2 linked regions of the Homo sapiens genome follow. The protein of the gene in region 2 interacts with the protein of the main gene of each other region in a pairwise test. Each region holds a gene or a part of one and is shown on either strand. Other genes may lie near its edges.

Evidence for each region.
Region 1: the proteins of CLDN11 (region 2) and KLRC1 interact in binary tests that used the Homo sapiens proteins (3 or more experiments, as listed by UniProt).

Annotation. Positions count from the first base shown.
Region 1 is NC_000012.12:10,445,264-10,448,026, forward strand, and holds the end of KLRC1 (NKG2-A/NKG2-B type II integral membrane protein), read right to left. Parts: intron 2,370-2,763; coding exon 2,269-2,369; intron 1,400-2,268; coding exon 1,288-1,399; 3' UTR 765-1,287; downstream 1-764. UniProt on the Homo sapiens protein: Immune inhibitory receptor involved in self-nonself discrimination.
Region 2 is NC_000003.12:170,431,715-170,435,214, forward strand, and holds the end of CLDN11 (claudin-11), read left to right. Parts: intron 1-809; coding exon 810-1,042; 3' UTR 1,043-2,977; downstream 2,978-3,500. UniProt on the Homo sapiens protein: Plays a major role in tight junction-specific obliteration of the intercellular space, through calcium-independent cell-adhesion activity.

The sequences.
Region 1 (2,763 bases), on a different chromosome or scaffold from region 2:
TATTTCAGAAACAAAGGCTGGTTTAACATTTGAAAAAATAAAAGTAGTTTATAAAATGTTATATAAATACAACATATATCATTCCAACTGCTACAAATTAATAAAAATGTTACAATTGATAAAATCTATTAGAAAATAGGAATATTATAAAACTGCTTCGATATGAGAAAGATAGGATGAAAACAACACCAAGCTTTGTAAATATGAATAATATGTTTAAGTATTTTTTGCCAAAATCAGAAAACGATACATATGATACACACAGAACTTTGATTGTACCTTCTATTCAACTATGGGTATAAAACCCTAGCCAGTGAAAATAAATGAAAATAAAACTACGTTATAGCATATAGATTAAAAAAATAAAAGTGTGATCATGTGCAGATAAAATTGCTCGTTATATAGAACACCCAGAAATAAATCAATAGTTGACATAATAGATTTACATATATAAAATCAGTGGAATAAGTAGATATAAAATCAAAATGCAGACATCAGTTGTATTTCTATTTATAACAACAAAAATTACTAAAGGGAATTTTAGAATCAGGATGCCATTTACAAAAGCATAAATGTAAAATACCTACATTTCTGTATGACTTCAATCCCCCAAAATACAAAATACAATAGAGAGAAATTAAAGATAACACAGTACATTGAAGGAAACACTTTATATTGATTAGAAAAGTCAATATTATAAAGAAGCTAATCTTTAAAAATTACTTTAGAGAATAAATGCAGTCACAAATAATCCCAGGAGAGGCTTTTTTTTTTTTTCTGGATAGCTTTATTGAAGTGTCGTGTACAAAGCATACATTTCATGCACTTAAAATGATTAAAAATCAATGATGTTTAGTATATTCGCAGAGTTACAACCATCACCACTACTGAAATTTAGAAAGTTTTCATCACGACACAAAGTAACGTTCTATCAGTTAGAGGTCATCTCCTATTTCAACCTCCCTCAGACATTGGCAACCACTATTCTACTTTCTGTCTCCATGGGTTTGACTGTTCTTGGTACTTCCTATAAGCTGACTCACATAACATGCAACTTTTAGAAAGGCTGAAAACCACAAATACCATGTTGAGCAAAATGAGCCCGACACAAATGCTAGGATGTCTGTACTTTAGTAATTGTGTGTATCCTGTTTCAATAATTGATTTAGAATTTTCTTATTAGAGCAAATAACATAATTCATTTTAAGATTTATGCAATCATAATATATTTCTATTTTAAGAAATATACAATTTATCTGATGCACTGCAAATGCAAACGCTTTACCTCTAAAGCTTATGCTTACAATGATATATTATTGAAGATCCACACTGGGCTGATTTAAGTCGATTTACTTGTAGCACTGCACAGTTAAGTTCAGCATTATCTGAGTCTTTTATCCTGTAATGGAGAAAAATCCATATTCTGTTACATTTTAAGCAAATGATTCATGAGACGAAAGCATTTTCCATGTACTGTAAGAAAATAATTTCATGGAAAAGGGTAATTAAATTTTTCATAATATTAGTAAGAGTCATTATTCTGAACACTCAACAGAGTAGTCCCCCTTCATCCACGAGGGATATGTTTCAAGATTCCAGTGGATGCCTGAAACGGCAGATAGTGCAGAACCTATAGAGAGATTATGTTTTCTCTACACATTCATAACTGTGATAAAATTTAATTTATAAATTAGGCACAATAAGAGATTGACAACAATAACTACTAATAACAAAATTATAGCAATATGCCAACAGCACTACTCTTGTGCTTTGAGGATATTCTTAAGAAAAAAAGTAAGTGTGGCTTTTTAATAAAAACAAGCACTGCAATTCCCTGATAGTCCAGCTCGAGCTTGTCCAACTCGCTGCCCACGGGCCGCATGTGACCCAGGACAGCTTCAAATGCGGCCCAATACATATACGTAAACTTTCTTAAAACATTCTGTGATTTTTTTTTTCTTTTTTTTGCTCGTCAGCTATCGTTAGTGTTAGTGTATTTTATGTGTGGCCCAAGACTCTTCTTCTTCCAATGTGGCCCACAGAAGCCAAAGATTGGACACCTGATAATCAAGAAGGTTACTAGCTGACCAATGAGCGGTTGAAATATATGGACTACTATGGTCTATTGTAAAATATTTATGTCAGCATTTCACTAACTTTCCACATCTTTCTTCATCTCTATGATTCCACATAGATTTATTCATATTATTCTTCTGAATTTATCCTTTATATATATATTGTTATATAGCGCCATACAAAACAACTTACTCATGTTTGAAAGCCAAACCATTCATTGTCACCCATGGATGATGACTGCTGTTACGAAACACACCAATCCATGAGGATGGTGAAATGATGGACAGAAATTTCTAAAAGAAAAGAAAGAATTTTCACTTAAATAATAATTATGAAAACATTACAAAAACAATATATTAAATTTGAAAACCACTATTTGCAGTGCCAAAAACTTTCATAAATGTTTATAATTTTGATATAAATGAACCCGTCAATGTTTATACTTAGTACTTTTATTCTTCTCATGTTAATAAAGAAGTTTTAATTCTTGCATTATAATAGTTACCCCAATTGACTGAATAAACACAGTAAGGATTTAAATAAGTCTCCTGATACTGTGCATTCATTCCTCCAGATACTGTGACTAAATCAAACTATTTTTGTGCTATATTTCTCAGAGTTGGAGATTTAGAAGAGAAATTAGAGGTTGTGATTCAGAAATAAATGACATGGAAGCTACATATTGGG
Region 2 (3,500 bases):
AATCAAAACCAAAATGAAGATTAGATTGATTGGTGCAAGACCATAAGTAAAGTTCTACCATTTTGACCCTTGAATGGGTGAGTTTTTCTACTCCAAGGACTGTTCATTTGTGTGTTGGGATTTTGTGATTGTGAACAGTGTAATAAAAACTTGAACCTTTATCTGGTACTCCGTTTTCATCTAGCAACATTCACCACAGCAAGAGAAATTTCATACCTTCTCCAGATCTTTGTAATGTGAATTGACCAAACTGAGAAAATAGAGTGGAAAATTGAGGTGGCTGCCATCTTGTTTCTCATATTTGAATAGCTCAGATCATTCAGCCATTCAACTGGTCTACATTGAGCACATACTATTTGCCTTGTACCAAGGTAGACATAGGTAAGACATGGACCCTACCTTCAAAGAACTCAGAGCTTAGAATGATGCATAGACATGTAAAGGGGTAATTATAATACAATTAAGTAAGAATACTAATTTTAGAATTATAACTGTAGATATGAAGTGTTGATATACAAGTAAATACAAATAAATATTTTTTGGACTTAAATGGTTTATTTCTAGGTTTTTACACTGGAATTGTTTTGTCTCTGTTACCTGCTGAAAAAAATAAGGACCCAGCAGTCTACTTCTTCTACAGATGCCAACTGCTACATATTGGTTCAGTGTTGAGGGAGCAGAACTGTGTGTATGGAGCTTTTTGGAGCTGGTTGGAAGCCACAAGTGTGTGTATGTGGAGTGAGTGGGCCTGCCCAAGTGCTTGGTGTGTGATGGTTGCGCCCAGTCACCGCCTCTCCATGTCTCTCCAGCTCTCTGCGCCCTTGTTGCCACCATCTGGTTCCCTGTGTGCGCCCACCGTGAGACCACCATCGTGAGCTTTGGCTACTCCCTGTATGCAGGCTGGATTGGTGCTGTGCTGTGCCTCGTGGGTGGCTGTGTCATCCTCTGCTGCGCTGGAGATGCCCAGGCCTTTGGTGAAAACCGTTTCTACTACACTGCGGGCTCTAGCTCCCCGACTCATGCGAAGAGTGCCCACGTATAAGAGGGCTGCCCGGCTGCCCACAGAGGTGCTGTAGATGCTGGGCCCAGGGCCCTAGGTTTGCTCGTCACAGTGTGGGGAAGCCCATTCCTCTGCCAGGCTCTAAAGCCAAAGGTCTAGAAAAGCATCCTGTCTGGCATTTTGTAGTCTTAACTTCTCCCCATTTCCCCCATCTTTTGGTTGCCTTAAAAGAAATCTCTAGCTCAGATAATGCCCAGACATTTTTTTCCCTTGGTGTTGCCCCTATTAGCTCTTTTCTTGGGCATTCTTTTGCTGTTTATTAAAAATATATTATATATATTTTGTTTCTTTAAATTTCAAATGTTTTGCAAACATCACTGAGTTAGGTGGGGGTGGGGAAGAGAAATACAAGATACTTTTTTTTTTTTTTTTTTTTTTTTTTTTTTAAATAGGGCCTCACTCTGTTGCTCAGGCTGGAGTGCGGTGGTGTGATCTCGGCTCATGTAGCCTCAACCTCCCCGGCTCAAGTGATCCTCCTGCCTCAGCCTCCCAAGTAGCTGGGACTACAGGCGTTCACTACTACACCCAGCTAATTTTTAAGTTTTTTATAGAGATGAGGGCTCCCTATGTTGCCCAGGTTGGTCTCGAACTCCTGGACTCAAAGTATCCTCCCGCCTCGGCCTCCCAAAGTGTTGGGATTATAGGAGTGAGCCACCACACCGGCCAAGATGCTTTTCAAACTGATACAGATGACAATGGGAGCCTCATAAAGATGGCTTTTGTTTCTTCCCTTCAAGGTCATTTACTTGTACGAGACAGAAAAAGATAGCATTGGGGACATGGGATGGGGGAGGGAGGGCAATAGTGGAACGAACTTTCCATGGGAAACTTTCCCTTTTGTAAGTTGAGGGCCAGGGGTAGGGATATTTTTTAGTTTGTGATTTTACATTTATCTGTACATACTTTTTCAAGATTGATCATTTTTATAACCATGGTTTTCCTGAAATCCTCAATTCATCAATATGAAGGAAATGAACCACATAGACTTTATGCAATAAATAACAGTGCAAGTGAGTATAACTCTAACTGATGTTCCACAAAACATTTTTGATTTCAGGTTTGTATGATGTAGTTTTTAATCGTACATTTTCATATGCTTCAAACTAACACATTTTTAAAGCTTTCCCCCACTTTTCTCTCTATTTGTATTGTTAGCCATCTTGAAGTGATGTTGTTTAACATAAATTGTACTGTTGAATTTGGCTTTACGGGTGTAAACACTGATGGTATATCAGTATCTGAGACCCCAAACTCTCCAAATACTGATGGTGCATTTTATTCTTGAAGTGAAATCTGTGCAATAAAATAACAGACTGTCTGCAAAACTGGCCTTCAATCTTCTGTTGTATCCAGAGGTATCATTATTGATTTAAAAAAATCTCATTAATCTCTACTGGTAATTTATAGGGAATCTGATCAGTGATTCAAGAACAAGTAATTCTGCATTGCCTTGAATAATTAAAAAGTTATATTTTATTCACGGTATTGCAGTGGTAATTTGTGGTCATGAAAGCATAACCTCAGTGCTCTCTAGGTTTCTTAAGTGGGGTGACTTTATGGCATCTTTAATCATCGATCAATGGGCAGCAATCAGAAACAAAGTTCTCAGCATTATGCAGTTAATGTCCTTCATCTACTTCTAACACTTAGTAAAGGAATTGATTGGCTAGGTATAAAAAGAGAATTAACGAAACCTATTTTATTGGATCTTTAAGTAATAATATCTAAATACATTTCGTTCAAACATACATATGTAGCTGTTTGGACATTTTGGACAAAGACACATTGAGTTGATTTTTATTTGTTTTTCTGTTCCAGAAACTTCATCAAGTTACGGGCCTGGTCTAAGAAAACACATTGCAATCTATTTTGGCAGACTTCTTTCAAATAAAATACTAATTTCATTAGCTGATAGTATAGTAATTGGCAAACATTTCCTCTTTGGAAATACCAATTTGGGCTAGCCATTTTGCAGAAATTTGTGTAGTTTTGATTATAACCTGTTGGAGAGCATTTCTAAATTACTTATACATAAAAGATAATCTTTTTTTTGTTTGTTTTTTTGAGAAGAAGTCTCGGTCTGTTGCCCAGGCTGGAGAGCAGTGGTGCGATCTCGGCTCTCTGCAACCTCCGCCCCTTGGGTTCAAGCGATTCTTGTGCCTCAGCCTCCCAAGTAGCTGGGACTACAGGTATGTGCCACCACACCTGGCTAATTTTTGTATTTTTAGTGGAGACAGGGTTTTGCCATGTTGGCCGGGGTGGTCTGGAACTCCTGGCTTCAAGTGATCCTCCTGCATCAGCCTTCCGAAGTGTTGGAATTATAGGCGTGAGCCACCGTGCCTGGCCATAGAAGACAATTTTTATGTTAACTAAAATATTTGCTTAGCTATTATAATATAGCTTTTGTAAGGATAAAAGTCATGTGACTACATTGGAGGAC